Regions from separate parts of the Homo sapiens genome. Here all the other regions are linked to region 1. The links come from fine-mapping of genetic effects on gene expression. A gene starts in region 1. Each other region holds a variant in brackets. All regions are shown on one strand. Distances are from middle to middle.

Region 1 (2,844 bases):
AGCCTTCCTCCTTCCTACCTTCCTGGCACTCTCCCTGCCTTCCTTCTGTCACTCTCAGGTGGACCCAGACCCAAGGTCCAGATTTGCAAGGCAGGAAAATGCTGCAGGCCTAGGCTGGGAAAGGGCCCAAAGCCGCTAGTGGATTGCTGGGACTCAGCCTCCTCCTTCCCACTAAGAGAGCGAGTCCTACTGGGTTCAAAATGACCCCAAGCCCTGGTTCCTGACACTAGGGGAAAGAGATGGGGGTGACAGAATCACAGAATCCCTGCTATGTTCCTCCAAGTGTGCCCAGAGATGCGTGTGTGTGTGTGTGTGTATACACAAATGTCTGCTTATCCTCAGGCAGGAAGGGTGGATGCAGTCATTTACACATGGTCTGTTTTTCTGGAGGACAATTTTATTTGATAAACAATTGTTTCTATCTGAATAGAATAAACAAGGCTCTATGATGAAGTAAAACACTAAATACACATGCATTAAAAAATGCATAATTATCTTTTTGGAATGGGCTATACAGAGATGTGCTTTTTAAAATGTTAAGAGTGTAAAAGGACAAACAGTGAAAAATAAATCTTCCTCTTATTTTGTCCTCCAGTCTCCCAATTCCTCTACTCAGAGGTGAGAACAGAACTTCCACACCCTCCAGAACCTCCACAGTTAGAACTGTCTACATGTTTCCATTGTCTTTACTTTTATTCTTGCCTGCACAAATAAATGAATTGCTCATTATGGAAACTTCCCAAAAGACCCGTTAACACTTCAATAGGAAGCACCAACAGTTTATGCCCTAGGACTTTGTTCCCACAATCCTGTAACATCATATCACGACACCTAACCCAATCCTTATCAAGCCCTGTCAAAAACGGACTTTAAACCAAGCTGCAAATTTTCAGTAATCTGGCCTTGCCTTTCCCCCTCTGATAGCACCATCAAACAAACCCCCTTACTGCCGAAAGCAATAAGCCCGGCTTTGTTCCATCCACTGGTTGTGTTGGTGATATCTGGGGACTGCCACTGAACAGACGCACAGAGGGAGCCCCTACAGGCAGGGGTTTTTCTGTCTGTGCTTCTGGGAGAGTATGTCTCGTACATTTGTCGCGTTGATGAAGACTTCACAGCTCCATCAGCTGCGGGCAAGGGGGTCTGAGGCAGTCTTAGGCAAGTTGGGGCCCAGCGGGGAGAAGTTGCAGAAGAACTGATTAGAGGACCCCAGGAGGCTTCAGAGCTGGGCGAGGTAGAGAGTCTCCTGTGCGCCTTCTCTCCTCTCTGCAATTCGGGGACTCCTTGCACTGGGGCAGGCCCCCGGCCAGGTGCATGGGAGGAAGCACGGAGAATTTACAAGCCTCTCGATTCCTCAGTCCAGACGCTGTTGGGTCCCCTCCGCTGGAGATCGCGCTTCCCCCAAATCTTTGTGAGCGTTGCGGAAGCACGCGGGGTCCGGGTCGCTGAGCGCTGCAAGACAGGGGAGGGAGCCGGGCGGGAGAGGGAGGGGCGGCGCCGGGGCGGGCCCTGATATAGAGCAGGCGCCGCGGGTCGCAGCACAGTGCGGAGACCGCAGCCCCGGAGCCCGGGCCAGGGTCCACCTGTCCCCGCAGCGCCGGCTCGCGCCCTCCTGCCGCAGCCACCGGTGAGTGCCGCGGTCCTGAGATCCCCGGGCCGGATGCGCGGCGGCCCCAGCTCCCGAGCGTCTGCCTCCCCCGCCCTGGGCTGCCCGGGCTCCCTGGGCTCCCCGGCGGCTGCACGGAGTCAAGGCGCCCCGTCCCGGGCGTCCCCCGCGGGTGCCGATCCAGGCTGCCCGGAGTCCGGAGCCCAGAGAGGAGAGAGACAGCTGGGGAGCCTGGTCACCGCGGGCATCTCCCCTGCGCTGCAGTCGCCCGCCTGGCCTGCCTTCCCGTTCCTCCGCCTCTTGCCCTGACTTCTCCTTCCTTTGCAGAGCCGCCGTCTAGCGCCCCGACCTCGCCACCATGAGAGCCCTGCTGGCGCGCCTGCTTCTCTGCGTCCTGGTCGTGAGCGACTCCAAAGTGAGTGCGCTCTTGCTTTGACTGATGCTGCCCAAGGACCTCTGATCAGCACCAGGGGAGAGGAGGGGCTGCTCAGGGAGCTGGGGTCCTCCGGATTCCATCCACAGCAGGGCCAGACTCTCCCCAGGAAATGGGACAGGGTGGCAGCGGAGGCTTGAGAACCACGGGGGTTGGCACTGGCTGGCAAGGGAGGAAGAGGCCGCCGGGACTGCCCCAGCCTGCGGGCATCTGGTAGATGAAGCTTGCTTGGGTCAATCCATTTCTCCTGGCTGGAAACCCATGGTCTTCCATTTGAGAACTAGATACGAACAGGGTGAGGCGAGAGGGAGAGGGAAGAGTGGGTTTTGGGATTGGGGCCAGTTTACCCTCACCCTGGAGTCCCTGGAGCATGGGACCTTTGATGAAGCCTCCTCCCGAATCTCTTCCAGGGCAGCAATGAACTTCATCAAGTTCCATGTGAGTATCCACCCCTACAACAGTTGGCTGCACAGACAAGTTGGGAAGGCTTCAGGGGACATCCCCTCCCTGCCCTCTGCTGCAGGGCTGCGCCACCCCTTACCACTTCCACTCCCCCTCGCTTACCCCACCTTTGTTCTCTCCAGCGAACTGTGACTGTCTAAATGGAGGAACATGTGTGTCCAACAAGTACTTCTCCAACATTCACTGGTGCAACTGCCCAAAGAAATTCGGAGGGCAGCACTGTGAAATAGGTATGGGGATCTCCACTGCAACTGGGAGAGAAATTTGGGGACAGGGAGGGATGGGTGGGAGGCAAGAGCAGGCAGGAGTTAGGAGCTGGAGGTAGGGTGGGTGACATCTTCAT
Region 2 (2,500 bases), 100 kb after region 1:
GATCAAATAACCATTGATTAAATTAAGTATGTGCATTGCATGTATGCAAAGAGGTAGAGTGGGATAGAGTGTTAGGTAAAAAGGAACTTGTATAATTAGACGTAGGAAATGGGGAACTCACTGCCTTCTTTCAAGTCCCTTGGTAAATGTAGATTTTATGTCCTCATATACTGGATCATCAGTCCTTGGATGATGGATTTCATATCGAATTTTCTTCCCCCTCTCCTCCCTACTCTCCTAGGGTGTCTCCCTTTAGACTGTTGGTTTCTGAAGGGCAAGGAGTGGGTTTTATTCTTCATATTATTGGTTCTGTGTTTACCATAGTCCCCTGCTCATGGTAGTTCTTCAATTAAGTGTGTTATGTTCTGATATTTAATATACCAGCTAGTCATTTTAGGTTATTTTATGATAATAAGGATAGCTGATTATCTCTTGCCTCCACTGGAAGGCATGATGTTTCTCTTTTCCTGCCCTCAAATGTTGCTATGTACCAAATATTTATACAGTCTCAAAGAGAAACAAAGATTCATAAACGATATTATATTGTGTTGGGTACATATTTTGAACTTTTAGATTCCAAAAAATTCCATGTCACTTCTATCAGAAGTTAGCACACTGGATTGGCATAAGTGTGGGGTGTGTGTATAGAGGAGAGAGGTGGTGAATCTTAGAACTCGAAATGTTTTACAAATGTTGTTAAGCTGCAGAAAATAGAGTCTTTGGCCCTTAGAGAATTTCCCACTGATAAAATTTCCAGTTGAATGACTTTTAAGGGGAAAGTGGCTGAATTTCACTGCACTTCTTACCACAGCTGGCCACCATCCAAGTCAAAGTCATTCCTTCTTTTGAAATAAGCTTAAGTTATTCCCATGAGTAAGCTTTCTGTGAAGAAAGAAATGGCACAGTTGTTAGAGTTGAGAGTTGAGGGACCTTTGTTATATAGCTTTCTTGTGTTTCCAGCCTTCTCTTTGTCCTCTCTCCATC[C/T]CTGGAGAACTGGCTCATCTTTTATCTACCAGGTGGATAACATGTTTTTATTCTTGCAATTAAAATAGATAAGGGTATATGAATAGGCTAGTAAATCTCATAAGAAAAAATGTAGATCAGCAACACTTAAATTTCTCATTCTACAATTCTCCCCAAATAGTAAAGTTACTTGTCAAACTCCAGCTATGCACATTGCTAGGTGTTGGGATATATAAGATATGGTCTCTGGCCTCAAGTTGCCTAAAACACAGATGAAATCAATAATCTTATAAAAAAGATTTATTCACATCCTCTCCACCAATATAATTGTTGCAGAATTTATATTATTCTTCTTAAAGAGTTGTGTGTTAACTACTACAAATACAGTGGTTTTTCTTCTTTGGAGTCATGGAGAAGATGTGAAGTGGTAGGGACGTGGGGGAAGAGTGACACACACACAGTAGGCCAGCAGCAGATCGAGACTGGTATGGTATGAGAGGAGTGAGGAGATGGTGGGCCACCTAGTTAGGAAGAGACCTTTGAGCATTGGCCTCAGCTGCTTTCTGCTTGTGGCTGCCCAAACTCACTGGGTTTTTGTTTCCTCCAAAGTACAGTGCTTCCTGTTGGCCTTCCTTCTGCCTGATGTACTCTTCTGTAGTTCTTTACTTGGATAATTTCTACTAATTCTCAGTTTTCATAGTAAATGTCCATTTTTCAGGGACACTTTCCCTGACTACCTCTAAGCTAGGTTAGGCCCTTCTATCATGTACTTTCTATATTTTTTCCTTATTATGCTTATCACAATTGTAATTAATTATTTGTGTGATTATTCACTGTTTAACATATCTCCCCACCAGAGCCTCAGGGGCAAATATTGGCTCTGCTGTGTTTGTCTCTGAATTTTTAGTATCCATCATAGTGCTTGGCATATAGTAGGATCTTGCCTTGTGGAGTAAAGTATTTGTTCAATAAACAAATAGGAAGGCCATTTTCTGCTGCGATCAAAAACTGTTTTAAGCTTCTTTGGAGAAATATATATCAGGCTGTGGTTGAATCTTGGTGAAATTTAACTGCCAATTAGGAAAGTAGCTGTAAATAATTGCTTAACACAGGGCATTGCATGCAAAAGGACCATCTAATTTGTGTTCTCTGAGTGAAAAAAATTTAGGCACAGAGTCCTGGGGTGCAGATGGGGATAATCCTGCACAGCCCAGCACAGGATTATACAGAATATGTAAGTGTGAATAAAAAAATAAACATGGATGTAGAATTCTCTATTAGTTTTGATCTTTTGCAAATGAGCAGAATAGCCATCTTTGGCAAAATGTGGTAGTATGAGTTAGCAAATACCAAAGTCACACTTTAGATATAGATACTAGATAAATCAGCATATGATAATCAGCACATGATAAAAATTTTGGGAAGCAGTACAGTAGTATAATCGTTAAGCATTAAACTCCTTATTTTAAAATCCCATTGTTGACACCTTCGAGATAGGTAACATTGGGGAAGTTATTTAATCTCCATTTCTCTTGAT
Region 3 (2,844 bases), 37 kb before region 1:
AGGCAGTGCAGTTCCTGCCCAAACCGGGCCTTTGGGATTTCTAGACCATGAGGCATCACCCTCCACCCAGGACAGACTACATCTGCTGCTGCACCACCAACTTTGTAATTTGATCAAAAAAGCAATCAAGTTCATCTGGCAGAATTTGTTCCTGAGAAGCCCTCGCCAGTAGCAGCCTCCCCTGATGTTTACAGATTCCCTTCCCTTGGGAGTCTGTTCTGCCGCCTGGTGGGCAGGGGAGGCTGGCTTTGTCAGAGCTGCTCACTTACTGCATTTCCATCCTAAGTCACCACTGGGGCACAGGGACCAGGAAAGGCCTGCAGTAGCCACCACTGCCCCAAAGGGAGAGGCTCCAAATGCCCCAAATTAAGAGCTCCCCATTCTGTACCACCCACTACCCCCATATCCTCCACCTCCCTGAAGACCGAACTCCCTTGAGCCTTTGGGGGCCACTGCAGCTACTTGCATCTCTTCCTTCATTCTTTTGTACCTGGGCGCTTCCAGTCCCCCATGCAACTCCTTTTCTGGCTTCAGCCTGACACAAAGTCCAACCAGTCTGAAATTCCAACTCCTCTCCAAGTGCTAAAACGCACAACCCCCAATTCCTGGGGCTTCCTCAAAAGAAACCATGGCCCCTGGAGGCACCCTCAGGAAGAGGTCAAGACAGGGAACACTCACCCCGGGCAGACAACTTCTTGGTATTGATGATTTTTGCTGCGTACTCCTGCGTGGAGGTTTTCTTCACACACCTGCGGACCACAGAGAAAGCACCCCTGGAGGGAGAAGGGGAAAAGAACTGGGACACGGAGCAGGGCAGAGTGACACAGACACACTTCAAGTCTGGGGACGATGATGCTCCCACCACCAGACCTCTAGTCACACTCACGTACATGCACACACACCGGCGCTGTGACCACCACCATCCAACATGAGGCAAAAGGACGCGGCCACCGCAGGACACTGAACAGATGTGGGTGGCGTGCCGCGCTCCCACCCCCTCATCCAGTCCCTGGGCAAGGCAACAGCCTCCACCTCAGGCTGCACATCAGGAGCGGGTGGGCGATGCTGAAAACACACACCTGCTGCATCTCAGACAGCCCTGCGGTCCCGGCCAAGAGAACCAGGGCAGAAGGGAGCAGAGAGACCCTGCCCTTCTCTCAGCAGGAACAGTTGAAGGTCGGGGAAGGAAAGATTAAAAAGAGGGTATCATCCCCTGAAAGAGAAATCTCCCTCAACCATGGGGCAAAGTGAGGCTCAAACCCCCCCACAGCCGGTTTCATCTCACTGCATCCCGGCTCAACTGACAGCAAGGGAAGAGAGGACACAGTCAGACATCAAGAACTCCCCTTC[C/T]CATGCTATTTTCCTTGACGTCCCCGTCAAACGGGAGCTCGCACTCTGAGCTCTGGAAACGTCTGGGGGGGCGGGCGGGGCGGGGGCTGCAGTGGCCGGGCTCGGCGCCGCGGGTGGGGGTGGGGGGCCGGGGCTGCTGCAGCGGCCAGCTCAGTGCGGAGGGGAGGGGGATGCTGAGGCTGCGGCGCGGCTCCCGGGACCACTGCAGGGGTGGGGGGAGGGGACGGGGGTGCCGCAGCACTGCCCAGCCGCGGGGCTGGGAGCCTGGAGCGGCACCCGCGGGGGGCGGGGCCGGGCGCCAAACAGCCCCCCCACGCCCGGGCTCCGCAGCAGAGCTAGGGCTGCAGGGCTGGGGAGGGTCCTGAGTGCGAGGCGCGTGGGACCTGGGTTCAGGGTGCGGAGTGAGCAACCGGGCAGCGTTGGGAGGTGGTCGGGAGGGGGGCGCCTGAAGGGTGCGGAGGGGCGGGGCTGGAGGGCACCCGGGAGCGGTCCGGGGTCTGCGGTGTCCGCGGCGGCGCGTGGGGAGCAGCGGCCCCGCCAGTTGCTGCAGGGCGCGGAGGGGGATGCGGGGCAGTGCGCGGGGGGCGCGGGGACCGAAGGCGGCGGGCGGGAAAGGCGGGGGTGGGGCGGCCGAGGGGGAGCCGCAGCGGCCGGTGCAGGGCCGGGGGGCGGGGCGAGAAGCCGCATAGCTCCCGGGCGGCAGGGCAGGCAGGGGACCGCGGCGGGCGGGCCGTACTTGCCAAGCTCCTCGAAGAGCTGGTAGTCGTCGGTGAAACGGGTGCAGGTGGCGGTGGTGGCCATGCTGGCGGGCGGGCGGACGCGGCGGTGCAGCCCGCGCCGACGTCGGTGCACAGTCACCGCCGCCCGGCCGAGGGAGCAAGAGGAGGAGACGGGGCTGAGCCCGGCAGCACCGCGAGACTTTACCGGGGAGAGCGAGGGAGGGAGGGACACCCCCGCGCCGCCCGCCCCGCCCCGCCCCCAGGCCCCGCCAGTCCCCCCCCCCGCCCGGCCCCCGGCCCGCCCCCGGGGAGGGGCCTCCCGCCGCCGGCCCCGCCCCGCCCCGGAGCCGCCCTCGCTGGGCCAGGCGCGCGGGGCAGCCGAGGGGAGGGGGTCCCCGCTCCGGGCCACCTGTCTGGGCAGACGGAGCTGGAAGGTTCGCGACTTATGGGCTTGTCCCGGGGCGGACCCCGCGCGGGCTCGGGAACGTGCATGCGAGGGTGCATGTGTTAGGAGTGTAGGAGTCTGGACCACTGACCTCTCTGGACGGGTCCTACACGCGGGTCCCGAGCCCCCAACCGGGCTCCTAGCACGTGGGGAGAGAGCCAAGGTCAAGGAGCCTGTGCCAGGCTGCACGCCCGGGAGGCGCCCCCAGCCTGCGCAGAGCCAGCTGCCAGCCGCCTTCCCTCTGGGAGCTGACAGTCTAGACTTGCGCAAGCACCAGGGCCATTATTAGAAAGAAACCCTTCAGGCGCGGGTTGATCAGGGAGACCAGGC

Direction of the effects. Positions count from the first base shown, and alleles are read on the strand shown. Sizes are in standard deviations (SD) of each study's normalised expression. Not every link is listed here.
For the expression in thyroid of the gene that starts at base 1,541 in region 1, T is the low allele of the variant in region 2 and C is the other (moderate effect, 0.56 SD a copy in GTEx).

Evidence for each region. PIP is the estimated chance that this variant, and not a neighbour inherited with it, causes the effect. A credible set is the group of variants that fine-mapping cannot tell apart.
Region 2: its variant is the best candidate, but not a certain one, in a credible set for the expression of PLAU in thyroid (GTEx, PIP 0.86).
Region 3: its variant is the best candidate, but not a certain one, in a credible set for the expression of PLAU in whole blood (INTERVAL, PIP 0.74).

Annotation. Positions count from the first base shown.
Region 1 is chr10:73,909,592-73,912,435 of GRCh38, forward strand. PLAU (plasminogen activator, urokinase) reads left to right here and starts at 1,541. Exons shown (of 11, transcript NM_002658.6): 1 at 1,541-1,627; 2 at 1,934-2,021; 3 at 2,450-2,477; 4 at 2,624-2,731. The coding sequence starts at 1,965. C10orf55 (chromosome 10 putative open reading frame 55) reads right to left here. Exons shown (of 5, transcript NR_160938.1): 4 at 2,609-2,693; 5 at 378-2,504. RefSeq lists enhancers at 1-216, 1-522 and a silencer at 1,488-2,087.
Region 2 is chr10:74,011,199-74,013,698 of GRCh38, forward strand. The region is part of intron 1 of VCL (vinculin); the gene reads left to right. Among named protein-coding and RNA genes, the nearest start is that of VCL, 14 kb to the left of the region's middle. The variant C/T (reference allele first, on the strand shown) is at 985.
Region 3 is chr10:73,872,311-73,875,154 of GRCh38, forward strand. It overlaps CAMK2G (calcium/calmodulin dependent protein kinase II gamma), which reads right to left and starts at 2,245. Exons shown (of 23, transcript NM_001367534.1): 1 at 2,087-2,245; 2 at 679-773. The coding sequence starts at 2,151. RefSeq lists silencers at 1,638-1,697, 1,958-2,127, 2,188-2,347, 2,358-2,637. The variant C/T (reference allele first, on the strand shown) is at 1,351.